Linked DNA regions of Homo sapiens: region 2 is linked to region 1. The links come from fine-mapping of genetic effects on gene expression. A gene starts in region 1. The other region holds a variant in brackets. All regions are shown on one strand. Distances are from middle to middle.

Region 1 (12,003 bases):
ATGCGGTAGGGGCTCAGTGCTTTTGCATTCCCTCCTTTTGCCCAGTTGTTGGATGTTCAACACTAACTACCTTCTGCATGGGCCATTTTCTTCCTCTGGACCGCTCTCTCCTGCCTCTGTTGACAGCAATCTGCCCCTCCTTCCATGCTTAGCATGAAGTCCACTTCCTTCCTAAAGAGGGCCCTGGTCTGGGCACTGTTTGACTACAAGTTATTTCTCCTGCAATGGGAAATGGGCTACCAGACTCTCAGAGACCCAAGTGCGATGTCGACCACAACAGAGACCCGTCTCACTGGTGGAGTCCTGTGACAGTCATGCTTGACTCTAACGTCTTTGGGGGCAGTGAGAGCCATTAGCAAAGTGCACTTTTCATTAAGGGGCCCAGCGAGTGGCCACTCAGTCAAGTCACAGAAGTATGTTTGGCTTTCTGCTCCTGTTCAGATCATCAAATGAACCTGTGAGCCCCCAAGCAGCTCTTCCTAGAGGGGGAGCAAACGAAGGACGTGGGTTCTACATACATATATGTGTTTAGAAGCTTTTGGCTTTACGTTTAGCCACAGGAAAGGGCCCTGGATTGAGATTCAGACCACATGGATCCTCATATTGGTGTGGCCACTAAGTTACTGTATGGCCATGCACCTGCGCTGTCAGGGCCTCAGTGTCCTCATTTGTAAAGCCAGGGGAGGTTGACTAGATTATCTCGAAGGGCCTTCCAGACAACGCTCTTCCAGTTCTGACAGTCTGTGCTCATGACAGTCCCATGACTTTGAAAATAAACACATGGTTAATGTTCGTTCTAGAAACACTTGCCATACATTAATTTGGTGGCTGGCATTGTGCTGGAAGTTGGGGATACAAAGAGTGAATAAAATACAGTCACCAGCCATAAGGAGCCCATAGTCTACTGGGGGAGACAGAGAGTTAAAGACGATACTATAGGCCAGGCACGGTGGCTCGCGCCTGTAATCCCAGCATGTTGGGAGGCCGAGGTGGGCAGATCACAAGGTCAGGAGTTCGAGACCAGCCTGGCCTTGGTGAAACCTCGTCTCTACTTAAAAAATACAAAAATTAGCCAGACGCGCTTTTGCGCACCTGTAATCCCAGCTACTCAGGAGGCTGAGGCAGGAGAATCACTTGAACCTAGGAGGCAGAGGTTGCAGCCGGCCGAGATTGTGCCGTTGCACTCCAGCCTGGGCAACAGAGACTCCATCTCAAAAAAAAAAAAAAATTAGCCGGGCATGGTGGTGGGTGCCTGTAATCCCAGCTACTCAAGGGGCTGAGGCAGGAGAATCACTTGAACCTGGCAGGCAGAGGTTGCAGTGAGCCAAGATCACGCACTCCAGCCTGGGCAACACAGCAAGACTCAAAAAAAGACAATATTATAACAGGGCAAGTGCAGAGGTAAGGATGCACACAAGGGCATGTGGAGAGGCGATGAGTAGGCCTAGGCGGTTTACCTGGAGAAAATGGTATCCAAGATGGCTCTGTAAGAATGAGTAAGCCTTGGCCGGGACAAATGGCAGGAGGAGGTCATATCAGTTAGATAGAGCCACATAAGGCATGGCAGGAAGGGAAAAACCACTCTCATGAGCATGGGGAGAAGCATAGGCTATTCTCTGTGGCTGGTTCATAAATTAGGAGTCCAGGAGAAAAGAATGAGGTTGGAGACATAGGCAGGTGCCAGACCTGAACATTCTCATGTGTTATACTGAGGAGTGGGAGTGTACCGTGTGGCTGATGGGAAGCCATTTTGAAGGTTAAAAGGGGAAGAGAGAAAAGGTCAGAGGTGTGGTTTGGTAAGTATTGAAGGTGGCTTTCAGAGGGGCAGGTTGAAGGGAGGAGAGACTTCGGAGCCTGGAGGAGGGAGGTGGGCTTGGGTGTGGACGTGCTTTTTGTAGGTTGGCAGGGGCTGGAGGTTGCTCTAACTGCCTCGTTTTTGTGGGGGAAGCACCCGGTCAGTTCTGCTGAGCTCTGGGGGAGCCAGTGGCTTTGGGAAACTAGTGAGGACTTAGCGTATGTGTTGAGGAGAGTGGGAGAGGGAAGAGAGTCAGGATAAGGGAAAAGATGGCTGGATGGGAGGTGTACTGCTGCTGGAACAAACTGCCACGAACGTAGTGGCCTAAATCAACACAAATTCACAGCGCTGCAGGTTAGAACCCAACACGGGCCTCACTGGGCTAAAACCAAGGTGTCTGATAGCCACCTTAAAGAAGCAAAAAGAAATAGGTAAGTTTTTGTTGTTGTTGTTGTTTTTTGAGACAGACTCTCGCTCTGTCGCCCAGGCAGGAGCGCAGTGGCACAATCTCGGCTCACTGCAACTTCTGCCTCCCAGGTTCAAGTGATTCTCCTGCCTCAGCCTCCCGAATAGCTGGTATTATAGGCATGCACCACTATGCCTAGCTAATGTTTGTATTTTTAGTAGAGACGGGGTTTCACCATGTTGACCAGGCTAGAGAAATAGGTAAAATTAATCTGAATAATTTATTTAAATCAACATAGCCAAAATACTATCATTCAATATATAATGAATATAACATTATGAAGATTTTTTGCATTCTTTTTGTTTTACTAAGTCCTGAAAATCCAGTGTGTAGTTCATACTCGTAGTGCGTCTAAATTTGGGCCAGCTATGGTTCAAGTGGCAGCAGCAGCCTGTGGCTGGTGACTGCGTACTGGGCCGCACAGGCTGCAATGCTCTCCCCCATCTCTTTGCAGGTTCATCTCATTCCTGTCTCTGCCCAGAGCCACCTTCCCTGGCCATGCTGTCTAAACCAGCCACCTCTCACTCCTAGCACTGCCTCCTTTTCTCCAGAGACTTTTCACTATCTGCTATTTCATTAGTTTTTTGTTTACTGTCTGCCCTCCTGCCTCCACCAGAGGCTATAAATCCCATGCAGGCAAAGACCTCTCTATCTGTCCTCTTTAGTGCTATATCCCCAGCAACTATGTGACATTCATGGGAGACTCTCCACAAGTATTTACTAGATGACATTGAAGATTCCAGATTCGTCATGTGTCATCTCTGAAGTCAATGTCCACTGAGTAGGATGTTGGAGGAGGGGCGAGAGGAAGGAGCATTATGTAAGACGTAAGGTGGGAGGAAGCTGGTCCAAATCCTCTGTGAGATGAAAGGCTTACTCCTGGATGTCAAGTTTAGGGCTGGGACTCCTGATGGCAGCATTTCCTTCCAACTGCGACCCGGTTGTGTGTAGTTTCAACCACTAGCTTATCTGGTTTGACGAGAAACCATCCACCGAGCAGCATTTCTGCCTGCTACCAGTAGATGGGGGCAGTGTCATTAAAAAAGTACACTGCAGTTTCTAACCTGTTTCCCAGCTCCACTTTGCTGACAGTCTGTTCTGGAGTTGCCCTGTCTCAGATCTGTGATGTGGACTCCCACATGGTGCTGCCAGCTCTCCCAGCTGAAGAAACGCAGCCTTAATTGTGATGTGTGCTTCAGGTGGGGTGGTCAGCTTCTCCATAAGGTGAGGCGGGCCCTAGAGGCTGGCACAGGTCCAGGCCACAAGGGGACCGCGGGTTCTCCTCCAGGGCATGACTCACACCAGGGTGTTCACACTGGCCTAGAACCTTTCTGTTCTCCCAAGGTTGGAAACAAGCTTATTAGGAAGGCGGTCAAGGCGTGACATAGCCTCGTCAACAGGAGCAGCTCTGTGGGCCTGTGCCGCTGGGACTGGCACTCCGGCTGCTGCTGAACAGCCCGGCCCACCAGTAGACTCCTCCCTGCCTCTGTGGGCCACTGGGGTCCATGCCACTGCATGAAGTGCAAAGTGGTGCCTCTCGCTGAGGCTGAGACCAGCCTTAGCTCCTGCTACTACTCCCTCTTCCTCTTCCCCAAACCCTCTTGAGCCTTGGAACTTTGAGCGATTTGGAAATGATCACTGCTTAAACATGATGTCTGCTTTTGTGGAGTTCAAGATTATGGACCTACTAAAGGTCACTGAACACAGCCTCATTTGATATGTTTTTACCAGAGTTTTTGTTCTTTAGAGCGTGTGCTATCTCCTTCATTGCCACTACAAGATAGCCTAGAAATTTAAGGAATTAATGTTGCCTTAAATGGCTTATTATAGTACTAACTACCTCATTCCAACAGCATGTCTGGTATCCCTCCATTAACCCATCAGTGCAGCTGAGGAGTAAGGCATTATAGCTCTGGTTGAAGGACCCTGTGGGGCCAGTTAGCCATGAAGAGGCCATTCCTTCCCTTGGAGTGTAAGAGAGCCAAAAAACACAATCAGGAAGGTTTATTCTTTGATTGTTACAAGCTCCATCTTAATTACTACATGTGTATGCATTTTCTTTCTTTCTTTCTTTCTTTTTTTTTGAGACGGTCTCACTGTGTCATCCAGGCTGGAGTGCAGTGGCGCGATCTCGGCTTACTGCAACCTCCGCCTCCCGGGTTCAAGGGATTCTCCTGCCTCAACTTCCCAAGTAGCTGGAATTACAGGCGTGCACCACCATGCCCAGCTAATTTTTGTATTTTTAGTAGAGATAGAGTTTTGCCATGTTGGCCAGGCTGGTCTTGAACTCCTGACCTCAAGTGATCCACCCGCCTCAGCCTCCCAAAATGCTGGGATTACAGGCGTGAGCCACCGCGCCTGGCCTTATGCATGCATTTTCATGCTTCTGTAATTTTGCTACCCTCTATACCCATAAAGCCCTTCAGTCTTTTCCTATTTGGATAAATTCTGTTTATCTTTCAAAGGTCACCACCTCCATGAAGCCTTTTCTGATTTTCCTAGTCACAATGAATGCTTTCTTCCTCCAGCTTCTCATAGTGCTTTGAGTCTTTCTCATAGCATTTAGCCCACTCTGTCTTCTTGTCCACATGCATATCTTGCTCATTAATTCTAGTTACTGAGTGCCTATTTGTACCATATTGGGGATACAGGGTACTTGCAGAGAACCCACAGTCCAGTGGAAACCCAGAGTTGGGTAGAGTTTACAACCTTCATTGGACTAGGAGGCAGGAATCCCGTCTGCTCCTAGCTCAGGGCCGGGCACCAAAAGGTAGTCAGAAAAGTAACTTAAATGGAAACTCAGCAAAGTAACTTAAATGGAAACTCAGCATCAACGACTCTGAGAAAATTGAGTTAGATTTCAAAGGAAGGTTAAAAGTTGGCAAAGGTAGAGGGTGGGCAGGGGTCAGTTTTATTTTGTTGGAATATCCCAAGGGAATTTCCAGGTATGGTTGCAGTGACTCTGGCATGAAGACCTGGCGTGGAAGCCAGAGACATCAAAGATCCCCAGGGGACTGGGATGGTGGGAAGGGATCACTGTCCTCCTCCAGGACCAGGCTGGGAGTTTGATGCAGGATCATTCGGACATTGATCCCACTCCAGCCATACGTCTTTTTGCTTTGACTGACCATACCATAGAGGCAAGCAGGCTGTTTCAAGGGCCCAGAAATGAGTTACTGGCTAAGGGTCAAGCCGGTCAGAAGACAACTACACTGTCCAGTTGGCACATGATAAAAGCAATACTGATGCAATTATCACTCCCATTGGAGGGTGGCCTGGCATTATTTGTCACTTAAATAAAAAACGTCATTTGAATTTTTACTAGGAATTCTCATCCAAAATATGTCAATGATAGAATGAAACCGCATGACCGGCTTGCCAAAGTAAACTAAGTCCTAACGACACACGAGCATTAGAAATTGTGTGTATCTCAGAAAACTGCTCTACCCTGAGGCCTGACAGCAGGAGGGGGTCTTGCCGGGGTTCGGACGGGGAAAAGCCTTATTCATTGACGGTATTCTACAGTAGTCACCCCAATCATGTTACCACTCACCTCACTTTACACTGTCTGCTGCTTACCTGTGAATACGAGCTCAAGATAGTGAGAGATAAGCCTTGGTGTTTTCTGTGCCTCTCTCTTTTCTTTAATGGAATACAATTCTGAAAATAATATTAAACAGCACCCAGTCATTCTCAGAAAGCCGTCACACAAGGAAGAAACCACTATTTTCCCAAACTTTTTGTACAGGAAATTATAATCTGTAATCTCATCTTCTGCCACCTCCCTCAGAAGTTTCGATCTAGACATACATGTATTCAGTGAGTGGCAATTCAGCCTGGGGGGTGGAGTGTCAGGATTCAAATCTTTTTGCTGCGGGGTAACCCCAGGTCCCAGTGATTTCCATAGACAAAAGAGATGCTGGTAAATTTGGGATGTAATTGGAGGATTGGACCGGTCTCCCCGCTCCCTCGACCAATGGCTGTCACGCGGTCCCTTTAAGAAACCAGGAATCCGCCCGGAGTCGGAGCCCAAAACAGATCCTCTTCTCTGCTCCTCCCCTGTCCCCGCGCGGCGAATGGTTCGCGCCGGCCTATATTTACCCGAGATCTTCCTCCCGGACGGCAAGGATGTGAGGCAGGCGAGCCGGACGCCGCTCGCAGCACCGGAGAGGGCGCACTGCAAAGGCGGGCAGCAGACCGTGGAGAGCCCGGGAGCGGAGCTGGACACCGCCTCGGAGGGAAGAAATGAGGTAGCGGCGGTTCCCGGACCCGGCCATGCCCGTCCCCTGTTCTCGGAGCCCAGCGCCGTCTCGGCCAGGCCAGCCCGGACACTGAGCGGGCCGAGCGCGAGTCCCCGGCGTCCGGCGGAGCGAAGATGCAGTGAGTCCCCGCGGGACTGCTGCGCGGGGCCCGCCGCGGCCAGCCGGACCCAGCATCCGACCGCACTTTGGGCGAGCTGCTGACTTGAGACCAGCCCAAACGGGGGGCTTTCCATCTCCAGCACCCCTCGGAGGTGGGGAGCACCGGCCCCTAGGCACACTCGCTGTAGAGTTTCCGCGGGTTTTGGCCCCAGTCCTGAGGGTTGTGTGTGTTAGGGGACCCACCTCACGTTCGCCGAGGAGTTCCTGCATATTCTTGCACCATCCCGGGTGCTGTTGCTGGGGCTCTCTTTATTTGCACGCGCGCTTCTAGCTTTTTTCCTGACATTTTCCACTCTACGCTCGTTCTTTCTCCCTTGCATTTTGTTGCTTGCCTGAGACTCTTTGCTCTCGCCCTTGCCCAGGCTGGGGTAATTCTGTGTGCGCGCGTGTCTCCCCCGCACCAACCTTTTTTGCACACTCGAAGCTGAATATTTTCTTTTTTAGAGAATTTACCCGCACCTCCTGCGGGGTTCCTAAGCACTCTCTCTGCTCCCCTCCCCCCAACTCCCTACCACAGGGCCGCTCCCAGTAGTTTTATTCTTCGATCTTGCCCGGGCCGAGCCTGGCAGGGGCCGGTGGCTCAGCGGGCCTCGCACCCGGCGCTCCGCCGCCGCCGCCGCCCAGCTGCGCCGGGGCGCCCTCCGGAGATGCTGCCGTGGAAGAAGCACAAGTTCGAGCTGCTGGCCGAGGCGCCGCCGCGGCAGGCGTCCAAGCCCAAGGGCTACGCTGTGAGCCTGCACTACTCGGCGCTCAGCTCGCTGGCGCGGGCGTGCCCCGAAGGCGCGCTTAGCCGGGTGGGCAGCATGTTCCGCTCCAAGCGCAAGAAGCTGCACATCACTAGCGAGGACCCAACTTACACCGTGCTCTACCTGGGCAATGCCACCACCATCCAGGCGCGCGGCGACGGCTGCACCGACCTTGCTGTGGGCAAGATCTGGAGCAAGAGCGAGGCGGGCCGTCAGGGCACCAAGATGAAGCTGACGGTGAGTGCGCAGGGTATCCGCATGGTGCACGCCGAGGAGCGCGCGCTGCGCCGCCCGGGCCACCTCTACCTGCTGCACCGCGTCACCTACTGCGTGGCCGACGCGCGGCTGCCCAAGGTCTTCGCCTGGGTGTACCGGCACGAGCTGAAGCACAAGGCCGTGATGCTGCGCTGCCACGCCGTGCTGGTGTCCAAGCCCGAAAAGGCGCAGGCCATGGCCCTGCTGCTCTACCAGACGTCGGCCAACGCGCTGGCGGAATTTAAACGCCTCAAGCGGCGGGACGACGCGCGTCACCAGCAGCAGGAGCTGGTGGGCGCACACACCATCCCGCTAGTGCCGCTGCGCAAGCTGCTCCTACACGGACCCTGCTGCTATAAACCGCCGGTGGAGCGCAGCCGCAGCGCGCCCAAGCTTGGCTCCATCACCGAGGACCTGCTCGGCGAACAGCTGGAGCAGGAGCTGCAGGAGGAAGAGGAAGAGGAGCAACCCGAGGGCTGCCCGGAGGAGGAGGAGAACCGTGCGGCAGAGGGAGATCCAGCAGAGGAGGAGGCCGAGGCGCAGCGTGCGCTAGTGGTCGCCATGCACTTTGAGTGCGGGGACTTGTTGGATACTCTGGAGAATGGCCGTGGGGAGGCGCTAGGAGGCGGCGGGGGCTCCCTGGGCCCGGGGGCCGGGCCGCCGCCTCTGCTGCTGGGCAGCGCCTCCGACATGAAGGCTGAGCTGTCGCAACTTATTAGCGACCTGGGCGAGCTCAGCTTCGGCAACGACGTGCGCACCCTGCAGGCCGACTTGCGGGTGACGCGCCTGCTGTCAGGCGACAGCACGGGCAGCGAGAGCTCCATCGAGGGCGGGGGCCCTGACGCCACCTCCGCCACCGCCGGGGACTCGTCCCGCCAGGCCGACGGCGCCAGTGCAGACGAGCCCCACTCGGGCTGAGCTCCTCCGCGCGTCGCCGGCGCTCCACCGTGGCTACCCATCCGTGGTCCCGACAACCTCCCTGTCCCTTGCCCGCCCCCAGGAAGGGGGAAATGGGGCATTTGGGGCCCAGACCTACACTTGGAGCCCAGGTCCAGCGTTCCCCCGACCGCTTTCCCCTACCTCCCGGCCCCCGCTCCCGCCCCAGCACTTTTGGCTCTGTTGCGCGTGGGGATGCGGGGAGATTTGAGAGGGGAAAACCCCGCCAGGAGGGAGAGAGAGGCACCCCTCTGGGATGCGGGTGAGGGAAGGTTGGCTGAAGTTCCTAGTCTCAGGCCGTAGGTGCCTGGCCAGTTTCCTGTTTGTGGGGCAGCTGGGGCCTGAGGAGGAGGGGTTCACTTCCTCCTCCCACCCCCTGGGAGCGGCCCTGCGCTGTCACTGACATCTCATTAAAAAAAAAAAAAAATTTGCTCTCAAGGTGTTTGAGGCTTTAATGCAACCCTTTAGCCCTTGGTTCTTTTTGGTGCAAGAATTCTGGCTGTTTACCTCAGACTCAGACCCCTGAAATGTTGCCAAATTCTTCAAATAACTGTTTGGGGGGTGGGGGGAGATGAAAGAGAGTCGCGTTTTGTTTACAGTTAAAGACATCCAATATCTTAAAAAGGAGTTTTCCTTTAGAAACACACACACCCTTCCTCTTGCTCAAAAGATCTCACTCCATGATACTGTGTAAAATATTTTTGCACTGTTGTGAAGTATTTTTGACTTTTTTCTGTACATAACTGTGTTCTCAGAGCTGAATGTTTATATCTTTTGCTGTGCAAAAGAAACATGTAAAATGTTGTTCAGTTGTATATACAGAAATGTGTATAAAACATTTTGTTATTTTTTAAAAGTAGCACTGTTCTGGTTCTGTTTGCACGCCAGTGGGGAGAGAATAAAGAGGAAAATTTAACAGAACAGGTGAGCGTCTGGAACTGCTGCGTTGGGGTGGGAGAGGCTGTGTCTGACCCTGGGATGGTGTCATAAGACAGTCTTTGGCCTTTCCTGTGCTTGGAGAGAATTAGGGAAGGAAGGTCCACTTTATGCGCCATCTGGGGCCTTCCTGGACCTCCACAACTCTGGGTGCTGTGTCTGGGACCAGCCTTTTCTTGTATTATCCTGTATTTTTCAGTAATTAAGTTGTGTGATCTTTTTCTGGTCTTTTGGAGAGGCCACGGTGAGTTCCATATCGCACTCCCAGACCTGTGAGGTTATTTATGGAGGAGTGACTTCCAGATCTGCTGAGATTTTACTACCTCCTTCTGTGGGCCATGCTAATAATCAAGCGTAAGGAGACTACCTTATCTTTTCCTTTACAAACAGCTCAGGGAGCTTTAAAGATGAACTAGAAACCCAAAGAGGAGTTCTCTGAGGAGTGGGGCCATCTCTGTTTTTCCTGGGAGGAAAACCAAGGAGAGAAAAGTTGACAAGTTCCGATCCTGGTGTGAGTGAGTCACGGTGCAGGTGGGTGGGTGGCTGGGCAGGCTGCAGAGCCCATTTCCTTCCCTTCTACAACCCAGTGTGACCCAGTTGGGGGATGGCGCGAAGGTCGAGGGGGAGAGGAGCTGTTAGAGCGCGGTATGGGTGTGCATGTTTCAGCGCTTTCATGCTTTCTGTGTGTTTGTTTCTGTTGTAAACTCCAAACAGATGTCTCTAGTTTGGCTACACCCGATCAGCTGGAAGTTGTAATAAGATGCTGCCAAAACTGTGCCTTCTGCAAATTATATTTTCCTTTTGCCCCTTGAGGCCTCTCTTCCTGTGTTGCAGAAATGGATCTCACTCCTGGCCTTCCCTGGTGTCCTGAGGCCACTTTGCTTTGTTTTCATCATAAATATGTTCTGAGCAGCTAGACCCAGAAATCCTAAGGAGTCTGGAATTCACTGGAACCATAGAGGAAAGAGGGGTGAAAGATTTTCTTCCTAATTAACAGGAATGGTTCAGGCATAGAACTATCTTTAAAAAAGAAAAGCAAAGGGGGCGAGTGGAAAATATGTGTGTGTGTGTGTGTGTGTGTGTGTGTGTGTATATATATATATATTTTTTTTTTTTTTTTGAGACGGAGTTTCACTCTTGTCACCCAGGCTGGAGTGCAATGGTGCAATCTCAGCTCACCGCAACCTCCACCTCCCGGGTTCAAGCGATTCTCCTGCCTCAGCCTCCCAAGTAGCTGGGATTACAGGCATGCGCCACCACGCCGGGCTAATTTTGTATTTTTAGTAGAGATGGGGTTTCTCCATGTTGGTCAGGCTGGTTTCAAACTCCCGACCTCAGGTGATCTGCCCACCTTAGCCTACCAAAGTGCTGGCATTACAGGCGTGAGCCACTGTACCCAGCTGAGTGGAAAACATTTAAAAAAAATTCAGTCTTAAGGGCCTTAGGACGTCCAGGCCTTTGAATCTATTATATTTTGGCTTGGTTGTGCGTCCCGATCCCTCTCCCTGAATACCTCAGATACACATCATTGAATGACATTAAAAACCCCAGCTAGAGAGAGGTCAGGAAAGTCCAGTCTCAGCCCAGCCACCCATCCCAGCCCTTCCACACCAGTGTGCTCACCTGATAAGCAGACGGCTGTGTGGGCCATCACTAGCCTGCGTGACTAGATTTCACATTTGAAATTATTCCCATGCATAGCCAAGTTCCTCTGCTGTTTGAAACTGATGAAGAGATGAGACAGAGTGAAGATAATATGGCTAATACTTGGGAGACAGGGCAGGGTCTGTGTGTCTTCATTCTTATCTAGTTTAAGTGTCCTGTGAGAATGCCAATGTTGGCTTTCATCTGTGACTGACAGGCATGTGGTGGTTGGTCCAAAAGTTCAGGCAAATAGTGTTGAAACCAACACCATCAATAAATATAAAGCAGCCATCTCTTTAAAGTCTGATATTTCCTCTCATGTGATTTATAAATAGGAAGGGGGGCTTGAAGGTTGAGGAGGAGGAAGAAGAAAATAAGCAGGCTGGAAAGAGCCAGCTCCCTTCCTCCTCCGTCTGTGCCCTCCCCATCTCTCCTTCCTCCCCTCTGCTTTTTGGCATCGATCCCCACTGCACCTCAGAGCTCTGACTGATGTAATTCTAGAAGAGATGTGAAGGTGACACGTGATTCACCTCTTCTGACTTCTCAGTCTTCCAGGGATGATATCACTAGAGTAAGAAGAGATGTTTTGAATGAAAATAAAAGAAAGACCCTAAAACTACTTTGCTCCTGGAGCTCAGAGGGAAAAGAATGGAGCGACAAAAGCAAAGCTAAGTCATTAGATAAAATACACCTTCCAGAAAACACCTGAAGTCTGGTTTACTCATCAAATTTAGCTTTTCTTTCCTGCAAAGTGAGGCTCATGTTTCTCCATGACTTAACCTGATGGTACTTTAAATGCACTGA
Region 2 (12,003 bases), 420 kb after region 1:
AGGCCTTCTCAGTGCCCTGGTAATATTTACACAGTTATTTAACAAGCAAGGCTGAGCTTTCCTTTCAACTGGCAATTAAAATCAGAACATAGAGACAAGCTTTGTAAAGCTTGGTTTCCATAGAGGATAATTTTCTTCCATGGGTTTAAAAAAATGAGAATCTTGACTGAAACTGTAGGTACTCACGTCAACAGTAATGCCCACTCAGTCTTCCAAATTGAGATAGAATGTGACTACCTTTTGCTGGAGGTTAGAAATAGTTCAAATTTGTATAATTTGTTTCCCAATTTAATAAGAAAAACAACAGGGGTGAAAATGGTCAGGCTGCGCTGAGCGCTGGGCAAAGGCAGGCTGTTCTGATTCCCGCCCAGCAGACCCCTCAGACGGGCTCCCCTGGCGTCCCTCTGCTGGGACTTCCCATGTCCCTGTTGTCTTGAAGAAAGGAACAAGACATATAGGCCGGTTCATTTTTAATCTGCTGCTGGTGTGGCCCAGTCCCCTCAACCAGACTGCTGGCAACTTTAAGTTGGAGACAGTTCTTGGAAGCAGGCTCAGTGCTGAGTTGGTTTTGACATAAGAATACATACACAGACAGACAGACAGAGAGATATACTGTAGCTGACATTTACTAAATGCCAGTCACCTTTTAAACAATTTATATCAATGATTTCATCCTCACTAAACTTTGTGACGCGGGTTACAGCAATGGCAAATGCGTATCAACACGTATCTAGCACCACGTGTGGGTTACAACAGCAGCAAATGCGTATCAACACGTAGCTAGCACCACGTGCCACCACATGCAAGCACTGTTGTGTTTATATCTGTGACCTCATTCAGCTTTCATAAACTTATGAGGTTGTTATTATCATGATCCCCACTTTATAGACAAGGAAACTGAGGCTTACAAGGGTTAAGGAATTGAGTCAAAGCCCCCCAGCTAGTAAGTGGTGAGGTCTGGATTTAAACCCAGGCAGCCTGGCCTGGAGCCCCCACTGATAAGACTGTCCTCGGCTGCCTCTCAGTGCATGGCGAGCACCCTGTGAACAGTCGCCAAGATAAAACCCAGCCCTGAGCACCTCCGCTGGGACCACACAACTGCTTCTGATTCTCCGGGGGAGTGTGAGTGGAGAAAAGACCCTCACACAAATGCCCCCACCCCCCCACCACGCACACACAAAGAAGTCAGGCTGGGCAGGAAAGACGCTTCAAACCAAATGTCTGGACAAAGAAAAGATGAGACTGGTGGAGGGGAACCGAGAAAGGCTCATGGAAGGTACTGTGGTGGTGAATAAGGAAGGACCCACAGAGTCCCACAGTCCCAGCAGTGGGGCGGGTCGGGAGGGGAACAGTGTGCTTCTGGGCCTAGGGGCAGCAGAGAGTGGCGGAGGAGACAAATGTGCATGATTCCACACACAGGAAATACCAAGAACAGGCACGCTCACAGGCAGGTTAGAGCTGGGGAGAGGCAGGAAATGGGAAGTTATTATTGAATGGGTACAGGGTTTCTGTTTGGGGTGATGCACATATACGAGAAACGGTGGTGATGGTTGTACAACATTGTGAATAGAATTAATGCCAGTGACTGTACACTTCAAAACGGTTAAAATGGAGCCAGGTGCAGTGGCTCACGCCTGTAATCCCAGCACTTTGGGAGGCTGAGGCGGGTGGATCACGAGGTCAGAAGATCGAGACCATCCTGGCTAACATGTTGAAACCCTGTCTCTACTAAAAATACAAAAAATTAGCCGGGCGTGGTGGTGCGCGCCTGTAGTCCCAGCTACTTGGGAGGCTGAGGCAGGAGAATGGCGTGAACCCGGGAGGCGGAGCTTGCAGTGAGCGGAGATCGTGCCACTGCACTCCAGCCTGGGAGACAGAGAGAGAGACTGTCTCAACAACAACAACAAAAGGTTAAAATGGCGAATTCTGTGTTATGTATATATTTGACCATAATCTCTCTTCACAGTGGCAGAGGAGGTGAAGCCACGGGCCTTGATGCTGTCAAGGTCTCGGGAGCCCTCCTCGCTGCGCTGGCCCCTGCTGCAGAGCCCGTCATCAGAAGAAAGTGATTTTTTTCCTATGGGTTCTGACAGTTAAGGCCCTGGTGCCTCTTGATGGCAATCAGAGGGACTGGAAAACTCACTCTCTGCCTCATTCCAACACTACCTACGGGTGGGACCCTCCCTGGGCCTCCTGGCCTGCAGCCTGGGGTCTCCAAGCTGCCTCAGGGCTTTCCGTCCCATGTTCTGCCCGAGCCCTGAGCGGCCCTGTTGACTTGGGACATGTGCCCCTTGGCTTGGCAGGGCTGCTGCTTCTCCCTTTCCATCTCATTGCTTCAAGCACAGACCATTCCACAATCACAATGTATTTACTTTCCAAAGCTGTGGATACCAAAGGAAAAACTGTGGTAGCAGAGTACGGTGTAATTAACGTGGAATGTACCAGGGGAACCGAGGACATGGCAGACAGACACCGCGTTCTCAAACAACCGCTTGCTGTTGAAGAGGGTCTATTTTCTCCTCTCCCTCTCCCTTCCCAAGAGATTAAAATAATAAACTCTAAGAAATAAATAAACGTGCTCAGCTTCACACATACGAGGTTGACCCTGGCGCAGGTGCGTGGACTCACGTGTGGGGTAGCAGCTGGACAGCCATGATCTGTGTCCATCACCACCCAGGCATCATGACCACAGAGAGACATATTTAGCACACACATTACAGTGCCTCCCAAACCAGCACCACCATCTGGGGCCTGTGCTGTCAGCCTGGACGCAGTCAAGTCAGCTGAAAGTAAAATCCATTCTCCATAATAAAGGTGTTCACAAGCCCCTTTCCCTGTGCAAGTTAGCAAAGACAGAACCATCTGACGAAGAATTAAATGCAGTAACTGGGCTGGGCGCGGTGGCTCATGCCTATAATTCCAGCACTTTGGGAGGCCGAGGCGGGTGGATTACGAGGTCAGAAGATCAAGACCATCCTGGTTAACACGTTGAAACCCCGTCTCTACTAAAAATACAAAAAAATTAGCCGGGCGTGGTGGTGGGCACCTGCAGTCCCAGCTACTGGGGAGGCTGAGGCTGCAGAATGGCGTGAACCTGGGAGGCGGAGCTTGCAGTGAGCTGAGATCGCGCCACTGCACTCCAGCCTGGGCGACACAGCGAGACTCTGTCTCAAAAAAAAAAAAAAAAAAAAATGCAGTAACTATATTTGAATCTTGTTCAGTGTAAAAGTTCTTAAGAAAAAGTTGTTTCTAAAGTGTAGCTTCAGTCAATAATTGGGATCTGTTTCTCACTGGGCACAAAATGGAGGGAGAAGAGAAAAATTCTCCCTGTCTTACTTAAAAAAGAAGACAGACTAAATAAAGTACAATAAATATCTATAGAATAAAGTAGTGGAAATTTGGAACTTCCAAATTTGCAAATCTGGAACTTCCAGTCCCTGCATAAAGCTGTCTGAGATCCTGCACCTGAAACCAATCTCCCCGCCACCACCGTTCCCCCTGCTTCATGCGACAGGCAAGGAGTGGCCCAGCCATGTCTGTCCCTCCTTTATTCATCCTCTGTGGATGTCTGACGGCCAGATGGACAGGGCTGGTTTCCTACTGGTCTCCGAATCTCCTGCCTCCACACCTAGCATGGGGTCCTATCTGGGAAAGTGTGGCCTATATGGCATGGAAGCCAGGTACAGCAGGAGTTTTACCCACCAGAGCACCGGACAGTGTGCTTTGGCCAGGACAAGGAGGGACACATTTAGCACACACATCACAGCGCCTCCCCCAGAAGGCAGGCATCTGCAGAGTCTTCTGCCCTGGCATCAGGCTAATGTCATGCTCCTCAGTGCCTATAGAATTAACGTCACCTTAGCCCAACACATAAGGCTCCCGGTGATGTGGCCTCTACCCCTGCCAGCCTCCTCCTCCTCTCTCCCTGGCACTCTCCCCGGCACTCTCCCCTGTACTCCACCCAGACCCAAGTTCCTGGGCCTACACACGCTACCCTCACTGAGGCTGTGGTGCCCTTCTCCCTCCTCGTCCACCAGAAAACTTCTTGTCACGAAAACCCAGCTCACAGGCCATGTCCTTTGTTCAGCTCCCTCCTCGCCCCCAAGCCTTGGACTATGTCTATGGTTGTGGGGTTTATACTGATCCTACATCCCTTTCTGTCCTATTAAACTGTGAGTTCTTTGGGGACAGAGACTGTGTCTTTTTATATCGGATATCCCTGCTGCCTAACCCTGTGCCTGGCACAAAGCAGGGACTCAGTCCAAATTTACTGAAGCGAACTAGTCTAGACAGGTATACTTTCACTGTCCAACTGCAAGGATATAACTAGCCTTTTCCAAGACAGCTATAGGTTCCACAGAGCGGCCCACAGCCAAGGCCTCTGCCAGTCTCTGTGAAGGGCTTCTGGCGCAATCCCAGCAGCTCCCCAGCCTCACTGCTGTAATCCACAAAGCACCTCCCAGCACGTGACAGTGAGGCTATGACAAGTACATAATATGTCACCTTCAGAGCCGCCAGGCCTCTTGCCAGTGCTATGCCGTCCTTACGGCGCTTGGGCAGGTACCCCCAGCTTGAATGTTCGACTTAATTGATTGGGAGCAATTAAGGAGAACATGTACTAGTTAATTAAACACTGTACCCCCACTGCCACCTTCATCAAAATCTCTTAAATCACATTAGGAAAAAACAGAATCTCTCTGGCTGGTTAGTATCTTTACTCTCAGGGCATCATGATGATGAAATGGGTAAACACATCCTCTTTTGCAAAACCATTTCCTTCCCATTTATTACTTTTTCTAGAAATGCACACAACTGCTATCACTTTCATAAATATTTTAAAACATTAGTAAGTCCCAGGGACATTCCTTTTGTATACTACATATTTCAGTGAGATTTGGATAAAATATGGCAGTTATACATGTAGCTCTAATTAACATATTTCCTGAATGAAAATGATAACATCTGGCCCCTTTTAAAGATGAAATATATGAAATTGGGATATAGCAAAAAATACATCTGAGCCGGGTGCTGTGGTGTGTTCCTGTTATCCTAGCTACCTGGGAGGCTGAGGCAAAAGGACTGCTGGAGCCCAGGGCTTTATGTCCAGCCTGGGAAATGTAGCGAGACCCTATCTCTATTGAAAAAAAAAGGGGAGAGGGGAAGGGAGGGGAGGGGAGGAGAGGGGAGGGAAGAAAGAAAAAGAAAGTAAGGAAACAGAAAAAAAGGAAGAAACAAAGAGGAACGGAGGAAAGGAGGAAAGGAGAAATGTAAGGAGGAAGGGAAGGGAAAGGGAGGGGAGGGGAGGGGACGGGGGAGGGAGGGATGCGGGGAGGGAGGACAGAAAGAAAGTAAAGAAACAGAAAAAAAGGAAGAGAGAAAGAGGAAGGGAGGAGAGGAGGAATGGAAGGAGGAAGGGAAGGGAAAGGGAGGGGAGGGGAGGGGGAAAAAGAGAATTGTCTGGTATATCTGAGTCTATGTTTTCCAACAGAATAGAATGAATGTCTTCTGAATTCTATGTAAGATATACAACATGATATTTTGAAATACACAGGTAGTGAAATGGTTACAATAGTCAAGCAAATTAACATATCCATCAATTCACATTGTTACTCATCTTTGTGTGTGTGGCAAGAGCACCTAAAACAAACTCTTTTCGCAAAATTCATGAATACGATATTATGGATGATAGCCCTCATGTCACACATGAACCCTCTAGACCCGTTCATCCCACACGTCTGCTACGCTGTATCCCCTGACTGGTATCTCCCCATTTCCTCCCTCACCCTCGCCGTGGCCACGGTAACCATCATTTTCTTCTCTACCGCTGTGTATTCAGCTTTTCCTCTTTTTAAAAAGATTCTACATATAAGTGAGATCATGCGACATATTTTTTCTCTGTGTCTGGCTTATTTCACTTAGCAATAATGTCCTCCAAGTTTCATCCACGCTGTGGCAAATGGTATGACTCCTTCTTTTTAAAGGCCGAGTAATATTCCGTTTTGTGTGTGTGTGTGTGTGTCTTGTATGTTACAATTTCTTTCTCTATTCATCTATCAACAGACATTTAGGTTCTTTCCGT[A/G]TCTTGGCTACTGTGAATAACGTTGCCGTGAGCACGGGAGAGCAGTTATCTTTACGAGGTAGTGATTTCATTTCCTTTGGGTCAATGCCCAGAAGAAGGACTGCTGAGTCATATAGTAGTTCTAGTTTTATTTCTTTAGGAATTTCCATATTGTTTTCCATCATGGCTGTACCAACCTACATTCCTACCAACGGTGCAGCGTGCTGGGGCTCCCTCTTCTCCACACCCTCGCCAACAGTGGCTATCTCTTGTGTTTTTGACAATGGCTATTCTATCAGGTGTGAAGTGAGAATGACTGTTTTCTGATTTTGCCAGATTTTTATATGTCTAAGGAATCAACCCCGTACTGCCAGCCTGCACTGAACGGGGAGAAGTGGCGGCTCACGCTAGTAACAGTCAGTGCTGTGGGGGGCAGATAAAAGGGAGCCTAGGAACGCTGGACGGAAATGCTGATTTGCTCCAGATAACAGACTGGAATTCCAGGCCATGAGGCTGGGCCTAGTTTAGTTAATGCTGGGCCACTGGTGGTTCTGTGACAGAAAAACAGGAGTGCAGGAATGCACCCCCACACCAGCGACCTGCGTCCATCACCCCACGCCAGCGACCTGCGTCCATCACCCCACGCCAGCGGCCTGCGTCCATCACCCCACGCCAGCGGCCTGCGTCCATCACCCCACGCCAGCGGCCTGCGTCCATCACCCCACACCAGCGGCCTGCGTCCATCTCTTCTGCATTTGTTAGAGGCTGCATGGGCCTAAATCACACACACTCAGAACCTAGAAAGAATCAGTGTAGGTAAAACAAGAGAGAAATTAATTTTAAATAGGAACATGTTCTTTGTCTTTTGAAGCCTTTTAAAGGCCCTTACATTCACTGTCGCTGTGCCTTTACCTAGACTCAGATAAATGACAGAAGAGGTGCTGTTCTGTGAGACCTTTAGAATCCATCAAGGGGAAGTCACTGGGCAAGAGGAATGAAATTCAGGCCCTGAGAAACTAGGGAAAAAAAAATTAGAGAAACAATGCAATCTTGTCAGGTGACCAATTCCAAGTGTGTCCTTTGACCTCATGGAATAAAAGACAGTCCCTGGCATAACTAGCTGAAAATACTAGCTGGGGTCATATGCTTCTGATTACTGAGAAAGGCCAGCACAGGCTGAGAGTCCCTATGCTCCTGCCTAACCCTGTGGCCTCTCCAACGAGGGGAGAAAGGTTTGACGCACTAGAAGTTCATCACTTTAAGTCTGTTGTTTGGAATTCTGAATACATTTTCCTATAACAACTATTTCCAACTGGTGTTTGGGCGCCTTTTTAGACATTACATACAGATGGACCCACAGTTTAGAATGGGAGCAATGGGGAAAGGAAAATGGGAGGTCGGGCCCATGAAATCTACTGATGAGTAGAAGCCCTTTGGGAGCACACACCCACTGTGACGGTGATGACGGTGATGAGGGCTCCGTGTGTGTGTGTGTGTGTGTGTGTGTGTGTGTGTGTGTGTGTGTGTGTATTTTATGAGAGGGCAGATGCCATGAGAGGAAAACGAGGCTCTAGGAACAGAAACAGAAGTATGAAGAAGTGGTTCAAAGACAAGAAGTAGCAAGCAGAGGAGATGGTTCTGAGTCCCAATCATTCCTCAGCTTAAGTTCTTCTTTCTACAATACTTCACTTCCCAGGCAGCAGTGCCCAGGTGAGCAGTTCCCTTGCGGGGAGGGGGTGGGGCAGCAGTGGACTCATGCTGCCTGCTGGGAAAGGGTATGTGAGATTCAGCTGCTCACACGACCATGTGTTCACTGAGCAGGGGATCACAACCTCAAGCTCCCAGAGAGCAAGGCAGTGGGGACGAGGCGGGGACCCGGGAGATCCAGACAGCGTGGCACGACCACCTGAGAGAGGCTGCTGCTGTTCAGCTGAGGCCAGGGGTTCTGGAGAAAAGGCAGGCCTAGTATCATCCTGACTTCTGAGTTTTAAAGGAAAGCTACGGAATACCTTGATTTTAAATGTTGGCAACTAATACAAAGTAACAACAACAACAAAATGCTACAGGCAAAAACAAAAACAAACAAAAAAAACCCCACACCAAAAACCCTCTTCTGTCTGGTCTGTGGAATATCAGTTTGCAGTCCCTTTCCCAGTGTCTACAGTTAGAATAAACCATTTGGTTCTTTGATTCGCAAGTCTAGCTACAAGCCAGAATCACTTTGGGTACATGGTCAAAACGCAGCTTTGGAGACCAACAGTATTGGGATGCCTGGGACAAGGCCTGAGAGCCTGTCTTTTGAGGTGCCCTGGGGATAGTGGTGTGGCTGCGCCGCATTTGGAAACCACTGGCTGGTTTGTATTTCATCCATATAACCAACTGCTCACTAGTGTTTCACACCTCCAGTTCATAATGGTCAAATACTATCACAAGAATGATAAAACCACAAAATATGCTGACCCCATGGATAGGAAAGAGGTGAATGTCAAGGGGACCTGGGACACAACCAAGTGTGTCAAAGTGTGTCTTATCTAAATGGTTTATGAAAAATTAAAACTCTATAATATATAAGCATATGTTTTAACAGACGAATTTTCCCTCTACTAAATCTTTGAGTAAAACTGACTCTTCAGGAAGATGCAGTAAGCTTTGATCCTGTGACTGGAGAGTACAGCTGTCCCCAGGATATTCACCAAAGTTTAAGAGAAACAGACATATCTACACACCGTATCATCATCTCGTCTGACTTACGCCCAAAGGCAAAGGGCCACGTGAAGTCCACAGCAGGACTCAAGTGCAAAGTCAACAGACTTTTATTTAAACTTCTGTTCAAAGGTATGTGAGTGTTGAAAGTGTGTCAGATGGTGGAGAAAATGACATAACAGGAAATTGTCGTTTAACAACAGAGTCCATCCCTGAATGCTGCAGCCAAGTCTGCGCCTCCGCGTCCACTCACGGGGCCACCGAGCAGTGATTTGGAGACCTGTTTCAACTATCAGCGGGGGCCAAGGGATCCCTGAGCCAGACCTACACCATGGCAGAGCCCCCCAGGTCATTTTCCCACCGTCGGTGAAACTGTGAGGAAACCATGGTATTATTCCTGGCCTCCCTGCGCTTCCCTCTCTCCTTTCCTGGTGACGTTTCCAGCTGTCACCAGCATTCCATGGCATACTTCTTATTCCCCACCTTCCCTTACTCTCATATCATCACTTCTTAGTAAGACTAAAGCCTTCCCCTTTCCTGTATTATTTACTTCTGATTAATGTCGGCAGCATTTCACCGGCGCGTAGCATTTAACTATTGACTTGAACACCATAGGTATTGCTTCTTATGGAAAAAGAATACTTTAAATTAAACGTGGTCTCTTTATCCAAAAGTGCCCAATTTGTTATGATTAATAAAGTTACCAATCAATAAAGTTACTTCATATGATCACTCTGAAAAAAACAATAAAACCTCTTTGTGGAAGCTCAATACACTGCCATTCTGTCATTCACTAGTGTTCTCGACGGAGAGGCGCTCTTGCTGTGCTGTGTCGTTTTTGATGGAGAGATGCTCTTGCTGTGTTTTTGACGGAGAGATGCTCTTGTTGTGTTTTTGATGGAGAGATGCTCTTGTTGTGTTTTTGATGGAGAGATGCTCTTGCTCCGCACTCCCACCTAACCCTCACCCCCAACCCCCTGAAAGGTTCTGGCCCCAGCACGGCCCCGCACACACCCTCTCTCACTGGACTTGCCCCTTCCCTTCTCCCGGGCCTCACGGCGGTGTCTACGCCGGGCTCGCTGGAACCTTCCAGGGCTCGGTGATTCGGGGCTGCGGTGGGAGGGCCCTGAGTTCTTAGACCCGCGTGCAGATCCGGCCGCGACACAGGCGAGACCCCTGCCGGCGAGGCGCGGAACTGCAGGCACGCCGCGGCAGGGAGGGCCGCAGAGCGGGAGGGGCCTGGGGCGCCCCCAGCAAAGAAGCTGGGGTGGGGGGCTGGCCACCCATCAGGTCATCAGGAGCCAAGTCCTCTTCCACACTTCTTTCACCACTGTCTTCAGCTGCCACCTCTGTCTGCCTCAGGACCATCAAGCTGTCTGGCTTCCGTCCTAAGACCCTGAGACAGAATGGAACCCTGGGCACTTACCCTCCTAGGCCAAGGCCAAATTCTCCAAAACACCCCCTAGAGGTGGGGGTGACGGGGGGAGGAGAGTAGACACTTGGAGCCCTGGACATCGGGCCAAGCATCCCACAGACGACAGATAAACGGCTCCCGGATGGTAATACAATCAGAGGCTCCACAGAATCTTTTTCTGTTGGCAATGGGATTAGAAAATAAAAATAAATCCCAAACACACACAGGCACCTGCCCTTTGCCTGGTGGAATGGAGAGCTCTCGTTTTGTTTTGCCCAGAACGACTTTCATTTACAGCTTCACATTTTCAGCAAGACGAAAAGCTGAGTCCAGACGCCCTTCAAAAAGAAGAGAGGTGGCCGGGTGCGGTGGCTCACGCCTGGAATCCCAGCACTTTTGGAGGCCGAGGCGGGCGGATCACCTGAGGTCGGGAGTTCGAGACCAGCCTGACCAAGATGGCGAAACCTCGCCTCTACTAAAAATACAAAAATTAGCCGGGCATGGTGGCGGGCACCTGTAATCCCAGCTACTCAGGAGGCTGAGGGAGGAGAATCGCTTGAACCCAGGAGGTGGAGCTTGCAGTAAGCCAAGATCATGCCACTGCACTTCAGCCTGGGCAACAAGAGCAAAACTCCGTCTCAAAAAAAAAAAAAAAAGGAAGAAAGGAGGAGGAAGAAGAAGAAGGAGGAGGAAGGAGGAGGAGGGGGAGGAGGAGGGGGAAGAGGGGGAGAGGAGGAGGGGGAGGAGGAGGGGGAGGAGGAGGGGGAGGAGGAAGGGGAGGAGGAGGGGGAGGAGGAGGGGGAGGAGGAGGAGGAGGAGGAGGGGGAGGAGGAAGGGGAGGAGAGCCACAAGTGCCAGGGGGGCAAACCTAGCAAGAACAGTCAGTATTCTCCGCACTGTGACCCCGTCCTCCCTGCGCTTCTGGCGGGGATCCAGCCCCTCAGTGTTCGGAATCCTCATGGCCTCATGAGGCCAACTTGGTAGAGACACCACCTCCTTTCTTAAATGAGGAAAATGGAGACTCCCACGTGGAGGCATCACCCGCCCAGGCCTCCGCACAGTGGGGCCCTTCTTCCAGTCAGCTGCTGGCCAGTGCTGAGGAGGGTCCCTACACACAACACAACCCATTTTATCTGGCCAACACAACTCTGATGCCATTCGGCTCTCATGCAGTTGAACCGTGTCAGATGAGAAGTGGCTGGAAACCTCCCTCTAGCTGTATGCATCTCCCACCACTCCCCATAGGGGGGTCTGGCCTTTCATCTTACAGAGAGACCTAGGTGACCTGCAGAGGCAACCCTGGGTCACCTGAGCTGCAAGTCCCAGTTCTGGGCCTGGCCTGCAATGTTCATATATTCTTCCATCCATTCTTGTTTTTCTTTACTAAACATAACTGCATGTTACAACCAGCTAGGCATAAACATTAATTAGAAACGCAAACCACCATACTGATAAAAACATGCAGAAATCCTATGAACCAGCGGCGTAACTGGGAACTTTCTCAAGAGCCTTTGACTCTTATCAAACTGCTAACTCTTGTTTTATTTGAGACTTAGTAGCATCTTCCTAGTTTTTTAGAAAATTGATTTCCTGTCTGTAAAATACACATTTGGAGTAAAAAATCTGGAAAACTTTACAAATCGTAAAGAAAAAACAACACACATATACAGTCACGCATCGCTTAACAACAGAGTTTGCTCTGAGAAATGCATTGTTAGGTGATTTCGTCTTTGTGTGAACACACAGAGTGACTTCCACAAACCTAGATGGTATTGCCCACCACACACCTGGGCTGTATGGTACAGTCTGCTGCTCCTAGGCTACAAAC

Alleles and levels. Alleles are on the strand shown, and positions count from the first base shown. SD is a standard deviation of normalised expression in the study named.
For the expression in fibroblasts of the gene that starts at base 6,386 in region 1, A is the low allele of the variant in region 2 and G is the other (moderate effect, 0.70 SD a copy in GENCORD).

What was found.
Region 2: its variant is fine-mapped to the expression of FAM43A in fibroblasts (GENCORD, PIP 0.95).

What each region holds. Positions count from the first base shown.
Region 1 is chr3:194,679,498-194,691,500 of GRCh38, forward strand. It overlaps FAM43A (family with sequence similarity 43 member A), which reads left to right and starts at 6,386. Exons shown (of 1, transcript NM_153690.5): 1 at 6,386-9,540. The coding sequence starts at 7,330. The coding sequence ends at 8,601. LOC124909474 reads right to left here and starts at 7,412. Exons shown (of 3, transcript XM_047449428.1): 1 at 6,363-7,412; 2 at 5,841-5,921. The coding sequence starts at 6,756. RefSeq lists enhancers at 3,381-3,430, 6,116-6,475, 7,227-7,732, 7,733-8,236, 10,083-10,202 and silencers at 7,216-7,405, 8,236-8,535.
Region 2 is chr3:195,096,660-195,108,662 of GRCh38, forward strand. The region is part of intron 3 of XXYLT1 (xyloside xylosyltransferase 1); the gene reads right to left. LOC124909476 (a long non-coding RNA gene) reads right to left here and starts at 9,884. Exons shown (of 2, transcript XR_007096226.1): 1 at 6,971-9,884; 2 at 6,193-6,855. RefSeq lists an enhancer at 5,979-7,178 and a silencer at 9,772-9,941. The variant A/G (reference allele first, on the strand shown) is at 6,080.